Linked DNA regions of Homo sapiens. The protein of the gene in region 1 purifies or fractionates together with the protein of each later gene. This does not show direct contact. Each region holds a gene or a part of one and is shown in the gene's direction. Other genes may lie near its edges.

Region 1 (7,361 bases):
GAGATCGCACCACTGCATTCCATCCTGGGCGACAGAGCAAGACTGTCTCAAAAAAAAAAAAAAATTATAGTGGGAAATTTAGATAAAGAAGTAGTAGTTCTCTCGGGGCTGTTTTTTTGAGGAGGTGATCTTTAAGCTTGATCTTGAAAGAGCATAGACTAGGAGGGAAGGTTGATAATATGACAGTTCTGGTCAATTTGGAAAGTGAAGGTTAGGTTTATAAGAAGGTTCAGTTGATATCTCCAGGAAAAGACAAACTACTGTGAAAGAAAGATAGTGTAGTCATGGTAGTCTATCTGGCTATATAGAGAATATTTATAACAACTTAAATATTGATTTAACTGAAAATACGATGAGCTGTAAGAGACGTGTGAACTACAGAACTGGATCTACGAATGACAGGAGGGCAGACCACAGTGCTTTTCACATCCTCCCCTCCTTCCCTTGGGCATAAGACCTGGCTATAGGAAATCTAGCTAATTACAAGAACGTCTTTATAATTTGGAGGGAAACTCTTGGAACTGTGAGTGCTCCCCGTCCAGTGTTACCATCCCCTACCATCCAATTAAAATGTTTCCAACCCACCTCCAAAAAAAATACATATGTGAGCTAAATCTTCATCTGCAATTACAGGAAATCGACATGGCTAAAATTTGTAACTCAAGAAACAGTATGAAAATATTTTAAAATACTGAGATTTTAAAAACAAGTTGTTAAAATTAAAGTGATTGCCATTAGATATTCGGGAGTGCTGGCAAGCAACTGCTTTATTTCATAATGAGCATTTTATACTATTACATTGATAAAACTTGAAAAAAGTAATGTCAGAATTCTATTAGCATTCAGGTGATGCGGATGCTGCTGGTCTATGAACCACACTTGGCATTACTTCATGGTCATTATGAGATTAACTGCCACCTGGCCTGAGTTTTGTTATTTTGTTAACCACTATATAACTCTTAAAGGGCCCTGTCGCTTCATAATAACTGTTTTGTGTTTGTGATAGACTTCTTCGAGTCTTAAGACCCTCCGTTCAAATATTGGCTGAAGTACCTGACTTTGAACAAGATTAGTTAAATGGGTTTTTTCTAAATTTTTACTTTTTAAAAAGAGTAACAGTAAAAATTCAGTTCAGTAGTTTTTTTTAATTTAATGAGAATTGTTCTTATTAAAGTGTTTATTATGTATTAAGATACTACCTTGGAGAACATCACTGGAGAACAGAGATGTTTTATAATGGAGAAACCCAATGAAGCAGGAAAAAACCCAACTAAATCAGCATGCACCCATAACTTCGAACTATAACAGGAAAAAAGATTAAGCTAACTTTTAACCACAAAGATACAGGAAATATGTTATTGCTTGGAAAGTAACATGCTTGTGAATAATCTACAGGTTAAAAAATTACAATGCATCTTAGAGAATATTGGATAAATATCAAATTATAAGGTAGAGTTTTTCAAAACTTGTGGGCTCAACTAAAGTAGGGCTTAGAGGAAAATTTACAGCTTTAAGTGAGAAATTAGAAAAAAAGGTAATAGGCTGGGCATGCTGACTCATGCCTGTAATCCCACCACTTTGTGAGGCCAAGGTAGAGGATAACTTGAGGTCAGGAGTTTGAGACCCACCTGGGTAACATTACACAGGACCCTGTCTCTACAAAACAATGTTTTGTAAAATTAGCCAGCCATGGAGGGACACACTTGTAGTCCTACCTCCTTGGGAGGCTGAGGCAGTAGGATTACTTGAGCCTAGGATTTTGAGGTTGCAGTGAGCTGTGTTCATGCCACTGCACTCCAGCTGGGTGACAAAGTGTGACTCTAAAAATGAAAAGGAAAAAGAGAGACTGAAAAAATATCTGAGTTTTTACCTGAAGCTGCAACAAGAACAGCAAAGCAAACGCAAAGAAAGCAGAAGGAGGGTAGGGCATTGTAGCTCACATTTGTAATCCCAATGGTTTAGGAGGCCAAGACTGGAGGATTACTTAAGCCTAGGAATTTGAAGCCAGCCTGGGCAGCATAATGAGACCCCATCGCTATGAAAAACAATTAGCTGGGTGCAGTAGCATGCGCCAGTAGTCCTAGCTACTCTGGAGAATGAGATGGGAGAATTGCTGAGCCCAAGAGTTCAAGGTTACAGTGAGCTATGATCGCGCCATTGCATTCCAGCCTGGGCCACAGAGAGAGACCCTGTCTCAAAAAAAAAAAAAAATGTGCTGGGCGTGGGGGCTCACACCTGTAATCCCAGTACTTTGGGAGGCTGAGGTGGGTGGATTGCTGGAGCCCAGAAGTTCAAGACCAGCCTGGGCAATAAAAATTTTAAAAAGACCAGGCGCTGTGGCTCCCAGCTACTCAGGAGGCTGAGATGGGAGAATCACTTGAACCCAGGAGGCAGAGGTTGCGGTGAGCGGAGATCTTGCATTGCACTCCAGCCTGGGCAACAAGAGTGAAACTCTGTGTCAAATAAAAAAAGAAAAGGAATATGGCAGGAAATTATGAAATGGAACACTGTATAATAGGAAGCTAGCAAACTTAAAGTACTTTGACAGCCTCTTTTTGTCTTTTTTGTATTTTTGTTGACTTTGACAATCTTGGTACATGTTTAATAAAAATGATCAAGAAAAAGAGAAAAGCACATCACTAATATCAAGAATGAGGCCGGGTGCAGTGGCTCATGCCTGTAATCCCAGCACTTTAGGAGGCCAGGTCAGGTGGATTACCTGAGGTCAGGAGTTCAAGTCCAGCCTAGCCAACATGGTGAAACACTATCTCTACTAAAATACAAAAATTAGCTGGGCATGGTGGTGCACGCCTGTAGTCCCAGCTGCTGGAGGGCTGAAGCAGGAGAATTGCTTAAACCCGGGAGGTGGAGGTTGCAGTGAGCTGAGATCGTGCCACTGCCTTTCAGCCTGGGTGACAGAGTGAGATTCTGTTTAAAAAAAAAAAAAGAAAAGGAGGGACAGCACTACAGGTATTACACATACAATTAGAGAATACTATAAGAACTTTGTGTTGACAAATTTTAAATTGTGTTGAAATGGAAAAATAGGTAAAATTGACACCAAAAGATATAAAAAGTATGAATGGTTGTATTATCTTTTTTTTTTTTTTTTTGACGGATTTTCACTCTTTTCCCCAGGCTGGAGTGAACGGGCAAGATCTCAGCTCACTGCAACCCCCACCCCCCAGGTTCAAGTGATTCTCTTGCCTCAGCCTCCCAAGTAGCACCCGCCACCATGCCCAGCTAATTTTTGTACTTAGTAGAAATGGGGTTTCGCCATGTTGGTCAGGCTGGTCTTGAACTACTGACCTCAGGTGATCCACATGCCTTGGCCTCCTAAAGTGCCGGGATTATAGTCATGAGCCACTGCGCCTGGCCTTTTTTTTTTTTTTTTAAACTGGAGATGACATCTCCAAGATGGTTTTGAACTCCTGGGCTGTTTGAGCCTTGGCCTCCCAGAGTGCTAGGATTACAGGTGTGAGCCACTGCTCCCAGCTGGTTCTACCTCAATTTTAATGGAAAACCTTTACCACTAAGTTAACCCCAGGCCCAAATGGCATTAGTGGTTAATTATTCTAATATTTAAGGAAAAATAACACCATTCACACAGAAATTGTTCAGAGACTAGAAAGACTTTGTAGTTTGTATGAGGTCAGCAAACCTTTGATATCAACACCCAATAAAATAGACCCATCTCTCATTAACATTGATATAAAAATTATAAACATAATGTTAGCCATTTATAGGCCAGGCACAGGCCCATAAATTGTCTAATGTCAGCACTTTGGGAGGCCAATGCAGGAGGATTTCTTGAGCCCAAGAGTTGAAGACCAGCCTGGGCAACATAGTGAGACTCTGTCTTTAAAAAAAAAAAAAAATTAGCTGGGTGTGATGGGCGCCCCTGATGTCCCTGCTACTTGAAGGGTCAGGTTAGAGTCTTGTTTGAGTCCCGGAGGTTGAGGCTGCAGTAAGCTGTGTTCATGCCCACTGTACTTTAGCCTGAGCAACAACGTGAATCCATGTCTCCAAAAGAAAAGAAAAATGAAGTTTTAAAAATGAAACCATTAGGCCAGGTGCGATGGCTCACACCTGTAATTCCAGCACTTTGGGAGGCTAAGGTGGACGGATCACTTGAGGTCAGAAGTTTGAGACCAGCCTGGCCAACATGGTGAAACCCCCTCTCTACTAAAAATACAAGCATTAGCTGGGCATGGTGGTGGGCACCTGTAATCCCAGCTACTTGGGAGGCTGAGGCAGGAGAATTGCTTGAACCTGGGAGGCGGAGGTTGCAGTGAGCTGAGATTGCCTCAATGCCAGTGCACTCCAGGCTGGGTGACAGAGTGAGACTCTGTCTCAAAAAAAAAAAAAAAAAAAAAAAAAAAGACACCATTGGAAAAATCCTATGGCAGTAAAGGAATAGAACAAAAGGCATGAGACATAAGCCAAAAAGTGAAAGGCAGACATAAATCAAGCTACAGGTGGACCCTGAATTGTGATTTGACATGATTTTTAGTTTATGATGCTACAGAAAGTGATAGGCATTCGGTAGAATATAAAGCCATGAGAAATTCAAGACTTCAGTATAAAATCAACTTTGGGTTAAATTATTTTGCTCAATTGTAGGCTAATATGAGTGTTCTGAACATGTTTAAGGTAGGCTTAGGTTTTGCTATGATGCTCGGTAGGTTAGTTGTACCTGTATTAACTGCATCTTTGACCTAGGATATTTTCAATTTCTGATAGGTTTTTTGGGATGTAATACTACTGCAAGTCACACAGCATCTGTATGTCAATAGTAATATGAAGGCCAGGTACAGTGGCTCATGTCTGGAATCCTAGCACCTTGGTAGGCCGAGGATCATTTGAGGCCAGGAGTTTGAGATGAGCTTGGGCACCATAGTAAGACCTTGTCTCTACAAAAAAATTTTAAAATTAGCTGAGTGTGATGGCACATACGTGTAGTCCCAGCTGCTTGGTAGGCTGATGTGGGAAGATCACTTGAGCCCAGGAGTTCAAGGCTGCAGTGAGCTCTGATCTCAGCACTGTGCATGATAGAGAGACCTATCTCTAAACAAACAAAAACAACCAAGTAATGTCAGGTGTGAAAGGATTAAACAATCCCATGAAATGGCAGAGATTTTCATACTGAAGGGAAAAACAGCCTTGGCCTATAGGCTGTTTACAGGAGACAGACTTTGGATTCAAAGATGCAAATAGGCTGAAAGTAAAAGGATAGATGAAGATACAACATGCAAATAGCAACCATAGTAAAGCTATCGTGCCTATACTGATTTCAGACAAAATATACTGAAACAGTATTGCTGGAGATACATAGGGACATTCTATAATGACAGAAGAGTTGGTGCCTCAGGCATACAAATCATAAACATATATGCACCTACTAAGAGAGCAGCAAAATGTATGAAGCAACTATTGACAGAATTGAAGGAAGAAATGCACAGTTCAGTAATAATTGGAGAATTCAATACAACACTGTCATAATGGATAGAAAACTGAGGAAATCAGTGAGACAAGAGACGACTTGAGCAACACTAAACCAACTAGACTTAAGAGATATCTTTGAACAGTCCACCCAACAACAGCAGAATAGACTTTTGGAGTGTATGTAGAACATCCATCAATATAGTCACACTAGGCCATGAAGCAAACCAACACACTTAAAAGGACTGAAATTATGGGAAAGAACATTATCTGACCAGTGAATAAAATCAGAAATCAGTACTAAAAAGAAACTTGAGAAATTTACAAATATGTTGAAATTAACACTCCTAAATAATGGGTCAAAGAAATCATGAGGTTAATTAGAAAATACTTTGAGGTGAATGAAAATGAAGACAAACATATCAAAGGTTTTGGAGGGTACAATTACAGCAATTCTTAGAAAATTTATAGTGATAAATGCTATATTAAAAAAGACCTCAAATCAGTAACCTAGACCTTTTAAGAAAAACTGGAACTAGAAGAACAAACTGAGCCTGAAGTCAGCAGAATGTAGGAAAAAATTAGTGTGGAAATTAATAGAATAGACAAAAATAGAAAAGGAAACCATAAATCATTTTCTTAAACGATCAAGAAAATTAAACATTCAGCTAAACTGAGCACAAAAAAGGGAGAGAAGACTCAAATTACTAAAATCAGGAATGAATGAGGGGACATTACTTCTGACCTTCCAGTAGTTAAAAAAAAAAATTATAAGGGAATACTATAGAATAATTCCAATTGTATGGTACTCCATTTAATAGATGAAACAGACAAATTCCTAAAAAGACACAAAACTGCCAGAACTGACTGAAGAAGAGGAAAATCTGAACAAACATAAACAAAGCAGTGGAATTAGGACAAAATGAAAAGCCCCAAATCAGATGGTTTTATTAGTAAATTCTACCAAACATTTAAAGGTACAGTTCTTCAATTCTTTCAAGAAATAGAAGAGGACAGAACATTTCTGAAATAATTCTGTAAGGCTAGTATTATTTGGATACCAAAAGCAGACCCCAATACTATAGGAAAAGAAAACTGCAGAACGATGTTTTTTTAATGTATAGAGATGTGAAAATCCTCAACCAAATACTAGTAATTTGAAATTAACATAAAAGGATTATACACCATGACCAAGTGAGATTTATTTCAGGAATGCAAAATAAATTTCTCATGCAAGAATCTTTAATGTTAAGTGCCATATCAAAGAGAACAAAGCTACATGATCTTTTTAAGAGATAGTGAAAAGCATTGATAAGATCCAGTGTCCCTTCATGATAAAAACATTAAACAATAGGGAAAGTTTGGAACTTCCTTAACTTGTTAAAAAGCATCTGTAAAAAAACCCACGGTTAACATCATAGTGGAGGATTGGAGGTTTTCCTGCTAATTCAGGAACAAGATGGACCCCTCCTGGCATTTCTATTCAACATTGTACTGGAGGATCTAGTCAGGAAAATGAAGCCCATTTTTTTTTTTCAAATAATAAAAGCATCGAAATTGGAAAGGGAGAAGTAAAATATACACGGATAACATGATTTAATATGTAGAAAATTCTAAGAGATTCACAAACCATTAAAGATAAAAGCCAGTTCAACAAAGTTGAAGGATGGAAGATCAGTGTACATAAATCTGTTTTATTTCCATATACTTGCAAAGAGGAATCCAAAACTGAGATTGAGGAAAGCATATATAATAGCATCAAAAAGTAGTACAAAACATATACTCTGAAAACTGCAGAATGTTGAGAGAAATTAAATAAGTAAATAGATAATCCCATGTTCATCTAGCCAGAGGACTCATATATTTTGGTTATTAACCCCTGATCAGATGTATGGTTTGCAAATATTTTCTCCCATTTC
Region 2 (7,361 bases), on another chromosome or scaffold:
TCCCTAGAGTTAGACTTCCTGTAAGGCAAATACATATCTGTGTTTTTCTTACTCTTTTTTGCTATCTTCTATAAAATATAGAAGATATCAAAACATTTTAAATTTAAATTTTTTAATTGAATTATCTGAAGCAGTACATAGCAAACTGTAATGTGCTTACAAATCACTTGGGTATCTTTTTGAAATGCAGATCCTGACTCATTGGGTCTGGAGCTGATACTGAGATTCTGTATTTCTACTGAGGTCTCAGCTGATGCCAGTGCTGATTCAGGGAGAGTAAACAGTAATGCATTTCCAACTATATTAAGGAAGGGGCCAGATAAATCATCGTTATGGAAGAACATAGCACTGTACTGTAGGTGAAAGGAACAATATGAACTTGCTGGACTGTCATTTGAAGAAAACAAAATATAAACTGTAGGCCACATTGCCAGAACACAGACCAAAATGAGCAAAAACAGTTGCTAGGAAACAGGCCCAAATGCAGAACTTTAGCTTATAGGAGGAAGTCAGAAAGAGCTGGAAATGAGAACATTGAGGAATATAACAGAGGAGGAACAACCAGAGGGTGTGATTTTTAGAATGCAAACAGTGACCACTTAGGATCAGTGTCTGAAATTTGGTGTTCCTTGAGCTAGCTGGACTTGGACTCTTTGACAGTATGTGAACAAACTGCCTAATCGTAGATCAGAAAGCTAACCTATGGAAGACTTTAAAACTACCTTGACTCAGGTGTGTGCAGTTTTACTCAGGTGTGTGCAGTTTTACTCAAGTGAGTGGGATTAGTTTGCCGCTGAATTTTAATCTGTGTAAAATTTAGTTTTTATCACAGTTGGCAATGTCTTCTATCAGATAGGATATTTTAATTTTAAAATGAGCTGATCCTGTAAAGAAGTAATTCGTTGTCTGAAATTCAAATCTAACAGGGCATCCTGCGTTTTTTATTTGCCAAGTCTGGTGACCCCATTTTCTGCATCCAGTAAGTAGAGATCTTTGGTGCTAGCTCAATGTGCTGCCTGTTACTAAGAAAAACTGAACTTCCTGTAAACAACTTACAGGACCCACCTACTCAGAAGGCTGAGGTGAGAAGATCACTTGAGGCCAGGAATTTCAGAAATAGGTATTCAACTTCACTGGCACAAGTTACAGAGTCTATTCCATTAGTTTCCTTTAATCATGATGAACTCTGTTGAATTTTGTAGTAATTTAGCCATGAATAAAGGAAACTAATGGAACAGAGACTCCCCAATAACTAAGGAAAAGAATTTTTTACCTAAAATTAAAATTAATAGAGTAAATGAAATTACCCTAAAGGGTAAAAATGTATTATTACTATGGACAGATAAGGTTTCTAAAGTAATTAGTTTCCTAAATCCAAGATGCTTTTCCTATCAAATATGACCATGGTAGCCCAAGTTTTGAATATTAGGAAATAGCTTTATGGCAAAAAAAGTTCCATTATAGATCTGTGGCTAAAAACTGGTGATGATTACCTCCAAATAAAAAGAATCTCTGGCATTAACAAAATACTAAGCATTATTTTCTGTACAGTGATGAGGGATAGTTGTCCTAGTTTCCCTTGTATTAAGAAAGGTCAGGCCAGGCACGGTGGCTCATGCCTGTAATCCCAGCACTTTGGGAGGCTGAGGCAGGCGGATCACGAGGTCAGGAGATCGAGACCATCCTGGCTAACATGGTGAAACGCCATCTCTACTAAAAATACAAAAAAAAAAAAAAAAAGCAAAATTTAGCCAGGCGTGGTGGCGGGCACCTGTAGTCCCAGCTACTCTGGAGGCTGAGGCAGGAGAATGGCGTTAACCCGGTAGGTGGAGCTTGCAGTGAGCCAAGATCTCGCCACTGCACTCTAGCCTGGGCGACAGAGCGAGACTCCGTCTCAAAAAATATATATAAAAAATAAGAAAGGTCAAAGCCAGATTGTGTCCCTTATTTGCTAATATACATTGCCACATAGTTCGTTGCCTTGTAACTTTACCTCTGATTTCCTTTTTCTCCTCCTTAATTTATCTTAATCCAATTATCTGTTTGAAGAAAAAAAAAATTTTTTTTATTTTTTTATTTTTTGAGATGAGAGTCTCGCTTTGTCGCCCGGGCTGGAGTCCAGTGACACGATCTCGGCTCACCGCAACTTCCGCCTCCTGGGTTCAAGCGATTCTCATGCCTCAACCTCCCATATAGCTGCACTACCACACCTGACTAATATTTTTGTATTTTTAGTAGACACGAGATTTCACTATGTTAGCCAGTCTAGTCTAGAACTCCTGGCATCAAGTGATCAACCCACATTGGCCTCCCAAAGTGCTGGGATTACAGGCAGGAGCCACAATGCCTGGCTAGAAGAAACTTTTCTAATTATTACTGTGATAGAAGCCATTTTATCTGATTTGATTGGGACCTGTATTAGTTCATTTTAAAAACTGACTAAAACACAGTAAATGAATATAAATATACTCTGTTTTTACCAGCTTTAAAACTTTTTTCAGTTAAAATGTTCAGTAACATATTTTAACACTTTAAAGTGTATTTTATTTTTTAACTTTGTAAATACAGTATTTTGACCTAAAACACAGACATTTATTCGCCATTTTTTGTTACCTGAGGCCAGAGTCTTCTTTTTATATGATTTTGCTGATTATTGTTTTTCTCTGCAGAAACCATATCAAAATGTGTTTAAGATTTCTCTCCAGTTTTTGTTTTTTTTTTAATTTTGCAAAGCTTAAAAACACTTGTAAAATTGCTGAATCCTAGACTTCACAGTCCCTCCCTACCACTCAGATTTCAGTGGTTCACATTTTTTCTCAACAGCAGATTTTTTCCTAATGAGTTGCATTGGTTGCATATTTTCTTGAGAATCCAACTTTTTTTTTTAATTTGCTTTGAAAATTATTTATGAAAAATTTCAAATAGAAAGTATGGACAGTAGTGAAGCACTTATGTACATGTCACCAAACCTTATTTTCTGTAAATCTTTTTGGGGAAAATAATGTTTTTTCCCCTCAGAAGTATCCACAAATGTGATATATGTTACTCTTATGTATATTTTAGTATATATTCATGTTTCATCTGTAAATCTTATGTACTATCTTATCTTTTTAAATTTTACCTTTAATGATGATACTATATAACCTTTACAACTTTTTTCACTTAAGATTGTCTTTGAGATTTATTCATGTTGATTCACGTAATTCATGTAGTTTATTCATTTTAACTGTTATGTGGGAGTCCCTTGTATGAGTAACGATTTCACATCCTTTACAATTAGGTTATTTGTCATCTTTCACTGCCAAAGGCAGTGAATGCTGAAAGTTTTCGTATATAACTTGTGCTCTTATTGGAGATATTTTTCTCCATCTGACACCCAGAACTGAAAAGAGCTGAGTCCCAAGGTGTATGCTTCCTCAGTTTTACAAGAAATTGCAGAAAATGTTCTAAAGCAGTTGCAGCAATTTACATTCCTACCAAAGTTATTATAAGGAGCATGTGAGAGTTGGACACATCTTAACCAGATATCAGATTTTTAAATTGATTTCAAGCAAATGTTTAATAAATGATATTTAATTTGCATTTTCCTAGGAACTATGGGGGAAACAGTTTGTATGCATGTATTGGCTTTTGTTCTCTTTCTCTGTGAATTGCCTGACTATATTTGTTTAGTTTTCCAGTGGACTCTGTCATTTTCTAATTGATTTTTGGAAGTGAGGAGTTACTCGAATATTTATGATAATAATCCTAACACCTTTCAAGTGTCTTTTTTTTTCTCCTTTAGTTATACAGAAATGTGTAAATTTTACATATAATCAAATATATCCATCTTTTTATTTATTTATTTTTTTGGTATCTGCTTGCTTGTTTGAAAAATTCTTCCATACTTCCATGTCAGAAAACCTTCTTTATTTTCTCATAAACATGTTTAGTTTTTCTTTTCATGTTTAAATCTTTAATCCACTTGTTATTGATTTTTGTTTGTGCAGAAGAGATCTAATTGTTTTTCCATATGGTTAAAGTCCCTTCTTCATTAGTGTGTGATACCCATCGATTAATAGTACCACATGTCATATACTGAGCCCTCATCTACTCATGGATCTGTTTGTTTATACTATACCAATACCATAGTTTTAATTAGAATAGGTTTAAAGTAAATCAATATGTTACTGTATTTTCCTTCAGGATTACCTTGGCTTTCTTAGACCTTTGCTCTTTCATATAGACCAGCTTGCTAAATTCCAAGGGGGTGGCAGTAGAATATCTGATGGAACTTTGATTGTAACAGAACTGAATTTACAGATGTATTCCCAGATAATTGACATATTTTTTATAATGAGCCACTCCATGATATATAGCTGCATTTATTTAGGGTACCGTTTTTGTCTTGCAGTTTGATAATTTTCTCCATGAAGGTCTTGTTGTATGTCTTTTGTAAGAGTCACATATTTTGTAAGATACAGTGTTTTTTGGTTTCTAGCATCCCTGGTGAATTCTCTTATTAGTTCTAATAGTTTGTTAAACCTCTTGTATTTCTCATGTATCTTAGGATAATATTTCTTATTTCCTCCTTTTTAATTCTTATGTGGTCTTAAATATAATCTGTAATTGCAGATGTTTTCGTGAAGTTCTGACTTTACAGGGAACGCTTCTGTTTGATTATTAAATGTCTATTATAAGACTTCGATAAATACCTTTTTTATTCCTTATTTTCTTTTAGATAGGTGTTGAATTTTATCAAATGCTTTTTCAGTTTCCTAGATAAACTTGCAGCACAAATTTGATTCTCTTTAATATTTTCTCTAGGGTGATCAGCCCATGACCTAAACCTCCAGACAAAATAAAACGGAAAATTTGCTAGAATCAAGAATGATGGATCCATGTTCAGTTGGAGTCCAGCTTCGTACTACAAATGAGTGCCATAAAACCTACTATACTCGTCACACAGGTTTTAAGACTTTGCAAGAATTGTCATCAAATGATATGCTTTTACTTCAACTTAGAACTGGAATGACACTTTCTGGGAACAATACAATTTGCTTTCATCATGTAAAAATTTACATTGACAGATTTGAGGATTTACAGAAGTCATGTTGTGACCCATTTAACATACACAAGAAATTAGCCAAAAAAAATTTGCATGTAATTGACTTAGATGATGCCACTTTTCTGAGTGCTAAATTTGGAAGACAGCTTGTACCTGGTTGGAAGCTTTGTCCAAAATGCACACAGATAATCAATGGAAGTGTGGATGTTGATACTGAAGACCGCCAGAAAAGGAAACCTGAGTCAGATGTATGTGTAATAGTCATTTTTTTCTACATTGTGAATTCTACCATGTAGGATTTTGCTTAACTATAAGAAAATCATATTTACATTATTACTAAATTTGTTAGCATACAGTGAATTAAAAGGAGGGGTGAAAGTGGATGATGTTTCTAAATATTATTCACATATACTGAAGGTCAAGATTGGGGGATAAAGAAAGTAGGCCTGGGAAAGTAATAATAAAATATGCCTAAGACTCCAAGCTACAACTTTTAGTGCGAAGACTTTAGGAGTGGGTTTTAGAATATTCTGGCCAAGCCAGGATTTAGTTTCTTTTCTGATACCAAAGTAACTACACGGGACATGGCAACCACCAAGGGTCTTTGCAGCAGGATGACTTCGCCTTTATATGAAGGACTTGGAAATCACTGCTTTAAAAGGAACATTAGAGAGGTGACTTACAGTAATTGTTTTTTATTTCACTCTTTTTTTCTCCTTTGACACTGTCTCGTTCTTGAGTTTTTTAAATGCTTGTGAATTTTCTTTGCTTCTAGTTCTGAATTCCTACTTGATATGGTCAAGGCTAATTTTAGGACTCCTTGAGGTAAAAAAAAAATAATACATTTTTACATTGTAAAGTATTAAATATTTTACCTCTATTCCTATTGACATGCCTACATGCATATTTAACCATATCAGAACAACTTAAGTTTTCATAAAGCTATCTTTTGTGTAGGACAAGTATATCAAAGAAGCACATCTCAGAATTTTTACTTGTAATTATTTCATAATTCTTACTGCTGGAATATTTTTCTCAGTTTTCTCCTTTTTATTAAACCAAGTTAAAAGATAGTTGAAATTTGAAATTATACTATTTTCCTGTTGTTGTCTTCTCAGAGGAACATCTTGAGGGCCCAGTTTATCTGTAGTTCATACTAGATACTTGCTGATAGTGTCATTGTAGATGTCTTCACCTTATCTATCCAATGTTCTTGTAGAATATATCAGCTGCAGCTCTTTCCTCCCCAAATAACAAACATAAACCCTTAAACACCGAAATTTTGTTTCACCAAAACTTTTCAAAAAGATTATAATACTATTCTAGAACTTGAAATCATATTCTCTGCTCTTAAAAATATATAAAATACAATAATAAGGACCCAGGATTGTTAGGAAATCAGTTATGTGCCACTGGATTATATAGCAGTTTTTGTGCCTTCTCTCCTGTGTTGGCAGCAGCCATTGCAGTTTTCACAATGCCTTCCTCCTCTGCTCCTAATATACCAGAGACTAAAATAAAATAATGGAAATGTTACTAATACATTAACCAATATGCTTTGAATATGGTCTAGGGCCATGTAAATTTTCTTGCACTTAGGCTCTAAAACCTTGTTTTCTTTTTTGTGTGTTCCAGACTGTCTTCCATGTTAGGGAATCGTCTGGTTTAACATTAAATAAAATGTTAATCTGTTGTCTGTTGTCAAGATTTGAGTTGATAATTTGTTTACCTTTCTTCAGGGAAGAACTGCTAAAGCTTTGAGGTCATTACAATTTACGAATCCAGGAAGGCAAACTGAATTTGCTCCAGAAACTGGTAAAAGAGAAAAAAGAAGGCTTACAAAAAATGCAACCGCTGGTTCAGACAGGTAGGCTAAGTGTTACTGAAGACATGTTAACTTGCTGCTTCACATCTGCATTGTTCCCCTATTTTTCTCTTAAATTTTGAATTTTCTGGGTTCATATTTTAAATTGGATAATGTAGAATTAGTAAAAACCTATGAAGGCCTTTGTTTTTATTCATATAAAATTAAGGTATCCCTTTCAACTACAAAAATTTGTTTCTAAGAAGGTAGCAGTGAACTGAAGAAATAATTTTGGCATGAGAGTTAAAATAATTACAATTAAAGTAATTCACTTATTTGAAAAGCATTGTTATTATATATATACGGACATACCTCATTTTATTGGTGCTTCACTTTATTCTTTACAAGGTGCTATTTATTTTTACAAATTGAAAATTTGTGGCAACTCGGTGGTAAGCAAGTCTATTGGTGTCATTTTTCTAACAGCATGTACTCCCTATCTCTGTCGCA

Evidence for each region.
Region 2: the proteins of ATF7IP2 (region 1) and ARL14EP purify together in Homo sapiens (affinity purification with mass spectrometry; 2 studies listed by BioGRID and IntAct, with this or other methods). This does not show direct contact.

The regions. Positions count from the first base shown.
Region 1 is NC_000016.10:10,388,961-10,396,321, forward strand, and holds part of ATF7IP2 (activating transcription factor 7-interacting protein 2), read left to right. Parts: intron 1-7,361. UniProt on the Homo sapiens protein: Recruiter that couples transcriptional factors to general transcription apparatus and thereby modulates transcription regulation and chromatin formation. Can both act as an activator or a repressor depending on the context.
Region 2 is NC_000011.10:30,326,080-30,333,440, forward strand, and holds part of ARL14EP (ARL14 effector protein), read left to right. Parts: intron 1-926; exon of another isoform or gene 927-979; intron 980-4,806; 5' UTR 4,807-4,869; coding exon 4,870-5,295; intron 5,296-6,786; coding exon 6,787-6,914; intron 6,915-7,361.